Linked DNA regions of Homo sapiens. Changing the gene in region 1 together with any one later gene gives a genetic interaction. Each region holds a gene or a part of one and is shown on either strand. Other genes may lie near its edges.

What was found.
Region 2: of NFKBIZ (region 1) and STAT3, changing one suppresses a phenotype caused by changing the other (phenotypic suppression), as found in Homo sapiens cells (one study listed by BioGRID).

What each region holds. Positions count from the first base shown.
Region 1 is NC_000003.12:101,852,512-101,859,557, reverse strand, and holds part of NFKBIZ (NF-kappa-B inhibitor zeta), read right to left. Parts: intron 6,821-7,046; coding exon 6,790-6,820; intron 6,673-6,789; coding exon 6,569-6,672; intron 6,468-6,568; coding exon 5,695-6,467; intron 4,981-5,694; coding exon 4,875-4,980; intron 4,497-4,874; coding exon 4,350-4,496; intron 4,164-4,349; coding exon 4,100-4,163; intron 3,826-4,099; coding exon 3,656-3,825; intron 2,486-3,655; coding exon 2,375-2,485; intron 2,267-2,374; coding exon 2,099-2,266; intron 241-2,098; coding exon 187-240; 3' UTR 1-186. UniProt on the Homo sapiens protein: Involved in regulation of NF-kappa-B transcription factor complexes. Inhibits NF-kappa-B activity without affecting its nuclear translocation upon stimulation.
Region 2 is NC_000017.11:42,312,817-42,315,481, forward strand, and holds the end of STAT3 (signal transducer and activator of transcription 3), read right to left. Parts: 3' UTR 508-2,665; downstream 1-507. UniProt on the Homo sapiens protein: Signal transducer and transcription activator that mediates cellular responses to interleukins, KITLG/SCF, LEP and other growth factors. Once activated, recruits coactivators, such as NCOA1 or MED1, to the promoter region of the target gene.

The DNA.
Region 1 (7,046 bases):
CAAGAGAAATTAGATATTTTTCTTCTTTTCTTTTAATATAACCCACTATATAATAGTGAACTAAATATGTTTGTTTCATAGAAACAACTTACATTTGCCAATATAAGGCAAATGGTCTATGTACAGATACATCAGGACTGCCTAACTGACAGTGAGTGTTGCTAGCCAGGCTCCAAGCTAATGGAGCTAATACGGTGGAGCTCTCTGCTGAATGGACTTTCCCTTCAGGATACGTCGGATCTGGAAGAGAAACAAATAAAATTTGTGAGGTTTATTTCTTATGGCCAATGTGGTGTATTTCCTTCTGAGTTTCATTCCTTTCTTATACCATCTACACTACTCCTATTAACTTGTAAGTATACGAAGAAATACACACAATATTTCTCAAGATTTTGAGGTGACTTTTAAAAATACTAAACTCCTTTTAAACTTATTTCAGATCTCTTATAATAATCTTTGAGTTCAAGAAAGTAAAACATCTCCACTAAAAATTATCTGAAGTTGAAAATCTCCATAAACTTAACACCTATATTCTTTTCCTAATCTTTACTCTTGCTATTTGTGAGAACATTTAACATAAGACAGTAATTAAGGCATATTATAATATCTCACTTATCTTGAAGTCAGCCTCAACTAACAGGAACAGAAAACCCACATTTTATGATACACACACAAGTAAATCCTTAATACCATTCAAGTCAAAACAGCTGTCATGATATCCAAGTATTAAAGCATCTACACGTAACTTCATGGATCACAGAAAAGATCCCGGCTCATTCAGAGTGATTCATTTTACATCCCAGTCTGACAAATTTTATTTTCTATCTCTCAGCCTCCAGCAGATTAGAAGCAACAATTTAGATGAAAGGCGATTGGGGTAGGGGATACAACTGATAGCTGCTAGAAGGAAACACACGACCACAGTATGACAATAAAAGCCAGGGAAAAGAGCCTCTACCTGCCCAACACACACAAAATACCAAAGCAAAAAGGAGATAATCTGGGAACATTTAATGAAGAGTTAAATGGCTTAATATCTCAATGATCCCTGAGAGCATAGTTATATGACTGCACACCACAAACAGTGAAGTAGAAGCAAATACTGGGCTTAGGACTCTGCCTTTTACAAGTTAATGATGGTTCTGGTCCTTGGAACCTCTCTGAATATCAATTTTCTCAGTTGAAACTTGAAACTTGTAAAGTTCTTCTAACTATTAAATGATATACATGAAAACTTTTTACAAACTATAGAAATATTCTTTCTAAATTACAAAGAGCTCTATAAATAGGGGCTACTATAACATTATGGTCATAATGACAGCTCAGAATCAAAGAAAAAGCTAAACTGCATTCCACGTATTTTATTTTGTGATTAGTAAAGTATGTAATGACCTACCCACAGCCACAATCCCCCTCATTCCTCCCAGGAAAAGAGTTCCATCAAAAACATTTTAAGTTCTTGAAAGAATAAGTTCTTGTTATCTAAAAAGTTTACTCATGAAACTATTCAATACTCAATGATAATATATAACCATATTTGATGAGTAAAGCATTAAATATGCTGTTTAAAACAAAATATTTCTAGGTTTGAAATTACATAAGTAATTTTTCCATTTTTTGTTCAGTATCACTTCATAGACAGAAATAATTCTAACTATTGATGTTCACTGATCTCTTACTCTGTACCCGGGACTATTGTGAGCACTCCACATGTAACAACTCATTTAATATCCACAATATTTGAAGGCTCATACATTACAAGACTAAGATTCTCTTTCCTTGGTATCTGCAGGAACCTTGGTATCTTCTCTTTCCGAACCTTAAACCATTCTGACTTACTCTAACCCTAAGTGTGTGTCACAGAATACTACCTGACCTCTAACCATTTTGAGTCTATGGATAATCCCTCAAATTTCTTAATTGCTGTTTCCAAACGAAGAGTAACTCCACAATGCTATGACAGCTACCGTGAGACACAGACACTGATAGAGTCCACCTGAAGAGCAACAGCTGGCCTTCGCCCTGCACAGCCTCATCTCCCTTTCTGTTTCAGACTGCAGTGCCAAAAAATACTTCCTCTCCCTCCTGTGCCTCTCACCTGTTCTCCCACAGGGCCATCGGGAACCAAATGCACTGGCTGTTCGTTCTCCAAGTTCCGAGTACTTGGGTCTGCTCCCTTCCTCATCAACAGGCGGACAGCATCTAATTGTGTCAACCGATACTGCAAGCTGGCAGCAACATGGAGGGCAGTGTTGCCATTGTAAGCCTGAAGACAAAGAAATGAATTATCAGACATCAGGAAGGGGGAAATTTCATGAAAGGAGCTCAAAAACTTTGAGAGGGTGTACAGAAGGCCATTCCAACTCTGGTGTACCTTTGCATTCACAAAAGACAGGCAACTGGGCAGCTCCAAAAAGAGGCGAATGAGTTCCAGATTTGCTTCTTCAGCTGCCAAATGCAGGGCTGTGCGGCCACTTTTGCGATCCTTGTCAAAGGCAAGAGGGAGGAAAAAAAAAAAAAAAAATCCAGATACTATGCCTCAGAATACACTTTTCACCCAGTCTCCTGAATGTCTGATTCAGCTTCAGAGACTCACTTTGAATGCTCCCTTCTCCAAAATGCCTTGCTTAATCCCAAGCTAAATGGAATCTTTTATTCCTCTTAAATTTCCTATTAATTTGTCTATATGCCTCTTGTCACAATGTACCTTTTTATACAGGGTGGCCATAAAATGTAGAAAAATAAATATTTTTAAATCCTATGTCATAACCTATCAGTAAACCATTTATTATGTATTCACCTACATTTCCAGATTTGGTAGCCTCCCTGTAGAGTTATATTTAGCTATATCTCTCACCTATTTTACTAGTCAGTAAGCCTCAAGGGTCCAAATGGTTTATGACTTAGGCATTTTTCCCCCATATACTCAGTGAATAAAACCAAAATTTTAAAAGAATAAACTATTTTCCAGCTTAAAAACCAGAAGATGAATTCCACATCCTACAACAATGAAGAAATCCTTACAAAAAGCACCTTTATTCTCAGTGTATGAAAATGGAAGCCAAAATGACAATATCAATTTCAAGCATTTTCTTTACCTTTCAAAGACTATTTATTTTATACCTAAATGACCTTTTGGATAATAATTCATGGATTTAAAGCAAATCAAGAAAACACATGAAATGATCTGTTAAAATCTGGGCTTCTTGGCCGGGCGCGGTGGCTCACGCCTGTAATCCCAGCACTTCGGGAGGCCGAGGCGGGCAGATCACGAGGTCAGGAGATCGAGACCATCCTGGCTAACATGGTGAAACCCCGTCTCTACTAAAAATACAAAAAATTAGCTGGGTGTGGTGGTAGGCACCTGTAGTCCCAGCTACTGGGCAGGCTGAGGCAGGAGAATCGCTTGAACCAGGGAGTCGGAGGTTGCAGTGAGCCAAGATCGCACCACTGCATTCCAGCCTGGGCGACACAGTGAGACTCTGTCTCAAAAAAAAAAAAAATTCTGGGCTTCTTAACCACCCATACATTGCTACTCACACCATTAATTTCAGAAAAAAAAGAAAGAAGTTTGAATCTGTACTTGGAAGCAAGGTCTTTTGCTATATAACCAGTTTCTCCCCTACCCCATCTTAAACCTTTTCTGTGAATTTACCTTCGCTTCCACCGCTGCTCCCATTTGAATTAGGCACTTAATGGTATCAACCAGACTCTTATTCTTCAGTAAAAGCTCCTGAACTTCAGGTGAATGAGGCTGTTGATTTCTCTGGAGTTCATGGACCACAGCATTGTGGGCTATGACTGCACAGTGAAGGGGAGTCAGGCCTAGAAGAAAAGTATAATCAAGCAGTGGTCAAGCATCCCATCAGGTCTTTTGGTCCTTCTATAATGACAAATGCTGAGGATGGCCTCTAACTTAACCTATAAATGGGCTCCACAAGAACTAGTAAGGCAATCTGAATATTGTCTCTTTTTGGGTCTAATTTTACCTACAGAATATTTTAGCTTTAATTACCTTCCTTCTTAGTATACTTAGCACCCTTAGACCTTATGGTTCCCCCTAAGTGGCTCTGAATCTAATAAAGTTTCAGTTGCTTACCATCATAGTTAGTTGCCTCAAGATCCACAAACTGATTACTTCCCACTGCTCCCTTCTGAATCGCCTGCAGATTTTAAAAACAGACATCTGTTAGCTACATAAGCTGCGCATATACCTATTAGAATCCCCAAGAAATGAATAAGTTAACTCAAAATAGATCATTGCAACAGGCAACCTATATCCGACTTCTAATATCCAACTCTATCTCTCTGGCCTTGCAATGATGGAAGCCTGGTTTGCTGCCTCTTACCTGAAGCACCTGGGAGTGGCCCTTCTCAGCACACACATGCAGAGGTGTTCTTCCCCAGCAGTCTGTGGTGTTCACCTGTGCCCCGATGTTCACCAGATCCTGCACAATGAGATGCTGATTGGCAGCCACTGCCACCTGAAAGGCACTCTGTGGATATCCAGAGGAAAAAAGATATTTTAAACATACAATGTTATCATAACAAGGAATATGAAACTAAACTATGACTGAGGGAAAAACCCACAGAGAGAAAATAAATCCTTTGAATAAGCAATCAGATACTGTAAGACAAGGAAACTAAAGTAAGCCTAGGGTGTGGCTTTATTACTCTCAGTGTTTGGTCAAACAGCTACAAAGTTAACATTAATAACTTCAAGGTTGATGGTAGCAAAAAGTCAACATCTCAAAGTTAATATTAACTAAACTCTCTTGATCTTGAGCTCTAAGATGATCTACACATAAGGCTGGTCATCATTCACTTCACCATGACCCCCTCTTTGCCATTTCAGACTCTGTCAAGGTCCTCACCTGTCCATTGTGCTCTTTAATATCCAGCATGTGAAGTGCATTCATCTTTCTTGCAAGAACATAGGAAAGTGCCCTTCTCCCTTGGGCAACAGCAATATGAAGGAACCTGGGGAACATGGAAAGGAAAGCGGGTGAATCACTTCTGATTTCACTAAGTTGTTCTTTTGAAAAAAAAAAAAAAATCTTCCTTTAGCCCCCTTTTTATATATTGGTACACTCAAATGAAACATTACAAAGCATAATTTGTCTTTTCTGCTACATTGATAATACACCCCAGTTGGAACAGGATGGGTTAGGCTATCAGAAATAAGAAAAAGAAGAATGTCAAGCACCATACTGATCAACTTAAATCTATTATTTTTAATACTCATAAAACCCCTATACAAGAGGTATTATCATTTTACACGTCAAGGAACTGAGACCTAAGGAGGTTAAATAACTTGCCCAAGGCCACAAAGACATCAGGACAGATTAAGATCAATCTACAAACCAACTCACAGTTTATCCCTAATCATGATCTAACTGTTTCTGTTCTATAGACATAGTCTACGCTGGTCTTCCAAACTCAATTAATCAAGAAGATACAGATATTTTTATCAATTTAGAACAGATTATCTGTTCAGCCAAAAAATTTTTTGAAGGAAAACCCTTTCTTGACATACTAGCTATCACTGAGTGGCGGTTTCTATCTACACCAGTCATCTTGGTTAGCCAACCACTAACTAAGGTATACCTTGTTATACCCTAGAAAAATTATATGCTCACTAGTCCAACAAGTGTGGCTTACCTAATTAAGAACATGAGATAAAAGAATACTCACGTGTCACCATCTGCATCCTTTGAAAGAAACTGGTCTTGGGAAATATTTGCCAATTTGCTTTCTTCCTGCTCCACCTGCCACTGAAAAAGTGATTTCCCTAACTGTGTGGTGTTCATTGGATTTCCCATGTTTGAGAATGGCAGTGAAGTGTTTGAAGAGTCAGAGGCCATCTCGTGCCCCACCATGGCCTCACAGGCGCTGCTGGGCATCATGCTGAAGCTGTGCAAGTGAGCATCATTTTGCTGCTGAACACTGGAGGAAGTCTGCATGGGATTAGCAATATTCTCAGATTCCCTTTGATCACCAAGAAGGGAAACTAAGCTTTGGTTTGGGCAAAACTGTGATTCTGGACCATCAAAGAGGTTTGGTTCATAAGCGGGGGACTGGGGAGGTATGGGAAAAGGACTGTATTCCAGAGTTGGTTTGTGGGTGTAGTGTGGCTGCTGCTCTACATGCTGGTTCTGTGGAGAATACTGGTACAGGGAAGCCTGGTCTATCATTTGTTGGGAGCCCCTGACTTGGAATGGTTGGCATTTCTGAGGTGGAGAAAAGACCTGCCCTCCATGGAAGTCCTGACACTGCTCTGCGGGGGAGCTCTGAGGGACCACCACGGGGTTCAGCCAGCTAACTTGAACTGTGTTCAGGGAAACGGGGCTGCATTCATTCTTAATGTTGATAATGTTCTGAAGCAGATCAGCACTGCTCTCCTGTTTGGGTTCATTGAGATGAACATCTTCCATGCTCTCCCCGGGCGTTGGTGTTTGAGGTGGTGTCTGGAAAGAAGGAAAATGCAACTTGCACACTCACTTCCTTCTAAAATTATCCCAGGAATAATTTCCAAAGGATAGTCAGAGGAAAATGGTGAGATACTTACCAAAAATTGGGAATGCAACAGAGCTGGCCTTTTGCAAGCAGGTCCATCAGACAACGAATCGGGCCCTTTCCTTTTCCCACTGTATGATACTGTGTTCTTCAATTCTGTACCCAAAGGAATACAGCCTCTGTCATCATTTTATTTTATAAATGTTACCCATAATTACACTCTATTATTTACTCCAAAGCCCTGAAAAAATTACAAATACAAGTAACTCTTACCTCTGAACTGTTCTATGTTCACACCTTGTGTCTATAAAGAAAAAAGTTTCCAATTTAGTGTATACAAAATGACTTCCTCTTAATATACATCAGTAAGTAGGCTTATCTCTACCACCCTTTATAGCTTACCATAAATCTCTGATATGGTTTTTCTATCAATATTGATTTTCTATATCAATTTTTATTCTATCTTGCGACTTCCTCATTTTCACTTTCACCTTAGCTCAACGCAGGTCAAGATGAAATTAATAAGACCA
Region 2 (2,665 bases), on another chromosome or scaffold:
GAGAAGCCCTGTGGGCGCCCGCGTAGCTGAGGTTGGGGCGCCTTTCCCTGCATTATCACCGCTGGCTGCCGGGGGCCCTGCAGCCACCACCGGGTGTCTGCGTGTTGTCCCCGCTGGGTGAACTGAAGGGAAAGTGATAAAGGAGCCAACTGTGGAAGGGGAGGCCTTGGTGCGGTGGGAGTATCTACCCCCCACCCCGCTTAGGTGGCTTATCTGACCCCAGACAGGACGAGGCCGCTCTGGGGGGTAGGAGGGGGCCGGGGAGGGAGGCCTCCACTCTGACACCTTTCTGCCGTTGGACTATTGACCTCCTGCTCCTCCAGGCACCCCTTACCTCCGGGCTGGTGGCTAACATAAGGGGGTTGGCGGGGGGGATTAAGGCAACCACCTCCTCTCAAGACCCTTTCCGGCCCTTATCCCAGGCCCCACCTGTGTGTGAGGCCCCCTCAGAACTTATGCAGGGGAAAAGGAAGCCTCCACCAGCCAAACAGAGCTGCCATGCTATCAGACGGTTCCTATATAACGTTTATTTCTGGAAGTTAAAGTAGATACAGCAATATACCAAAAAAAAAAAAAAAAAAAAAAGACAAAAAACCTCACAATAATATAAATTTTTACACTATGAAGTACACATTGGAATTTGAATGCAGTGGCCAGGACAGCAGCTTATAAACCACCTTATAGGTAGGTAAGCAACCCACGGGATTCCCTCGGCTGGGCTGGGGATGGGGAGGGGGCAGTGGACAGGAAGCGGGCAGGGCCTGAGGACCCTGTTCTTTAATGGGCCACAACAGGGCTCAGCTCCTCTCAGAACTTTTGCTACAATCAGAGTTAAGACCAGATACATGCTACCTAAGGCCATGAACTTGACAATATCTGCTCCAGAGAAGCCCTGAACCCTCGCCCTAGGTCCCTATGATTTAAACCCAATGGTAAGCCCAAGTCTCACCTTTCTAAATATTCTGTTTATCAGTTAAGCTTATTATGTACTGAAGAGTGTTGCTGGAGAAGTAAGAGCTCTGCATGACACATCAACTGTCTCCAGGCAGGAGGACTGGGGCGAACCCTGTTCATCTTAGAGAAGGTCGTCTCCCCCTTAATTCAGAGACCAGCTAATTTGATTTAACAAACAGAATTCCACAGAAACTCTGATCAGCTGAGGCAAGGTGGTTTTGAGTTGCCAAATCCGGCCATGCCTCTGAGTCAGAGGCAGCCCATCCAGCACGTGCTAGGTGTTCCCATACGCACAGGAGAGGCGAGCTAGCCAGCCAAGGCGGGCAGGCGGGGAGGCCCTCTAGCTGTTCTGCCTCACCTGTGGGGCCCCAGCAGGGAGGAGTCACCAGCCTCAGAGGGAGGCCAGGTATACACCCTCATACGAGGGCAGACTCAAGTTTATCAGTAAGCCTTTGCCCTGCATGAACTGAATGAAGACGCCATTACAAGTGCCACTGGATATCACCAAGAAACTGGCTAAGAACCATATTCCCTGAGCTCAACCAGACACGTCGCTGGGGCCCCATAGTGTGCATCATGTCCAACCTGTAACTCTCTCCCCCTCTTCTTCCATGAGGTCCTGAGACCAGGATTCCTAAAACAAACAGGATGAGGGACCTTTAGACACGCAAGGAGACATGCCTCTAGCAGGATCAGGGGGACTGGGGTCGGGAGGGTGGGGCAGGAAGGAAGCCAGAATCAGAAGTATCCCAGCCCTGATAAGGCACCCACAGAAACAACCTAGCCTCTGAAACAGCAGATCAAGTCCAGGGAGAAAGGGAGTCAAGGTTGTAAGCACCCTCTGCCCAGCCTTACTCACTAAAAGGCCAATACATTACAAAGGAAAATAAGTCTATTTATAAAAAAAAGTCTAAAATGCTTAGATTCTCCTTAAACCTTCCTATTTCAACACCAAAGGCCAGGTTGCAGCTTCAGATGTCTTAAGGGTTTGACCTGAAGCCCGTTTCAGGGATTATATAAATTACCAGCCTGAAGGAAGCTGAATGCTTAAAGCACCAAGGAGGCTGTTAACTGAAGTTTCTTTTTTTTTTTTTTTTTTTTGAGACAGAGTCTCAGACTGTCGCCCAGGATGGAGTGCAGTGTGCAGTGGTGCAATTTTGGCTCACTGCAACCTCCGCCTCTCAGGTTCAAGCGATTCTCCTGCCTCAGCCTCCCGAGTAGCTGGGACTACAGGCGCCCACCACCACACCCAGCTAATTTTTTGTACTTTTAGTAGAGACGGGGTTTCACCGTGTTAGCCAGGATGGTCTTGATCTCCTGACCTTATGATCCGCCTCGGCCTCCCAAAGTGCTGGGATTACAGGCGTGAGCCACCATGCCCGGCTGCTTAAGTTTCTTAAATACAGAAAGGCTATGCTGATACAGTGTTTTTTGCCCTTTAATTGTTATTATTTCTTAATTTAAAAAGAAACCTAGGGCTTAGATAGTCCTATCTTCTATTTGGATGTCAGCAAGGTTAAAAAGTGCAATGCCAGGAGTATGTAGCTATAGGTGGCCTGTGGCATTTGCTTACAGAAACAGGCAGAAGGATGCCGCAGGCACCAGGAGGCACTTGTCTAAGAACAACAACAACAATAACAAAAAGCTGCTGAGAAAGGAGGGCAGGGGAACAAAACAACACAAGACATTTCCTTTTTCTCCCTCTAGCCAC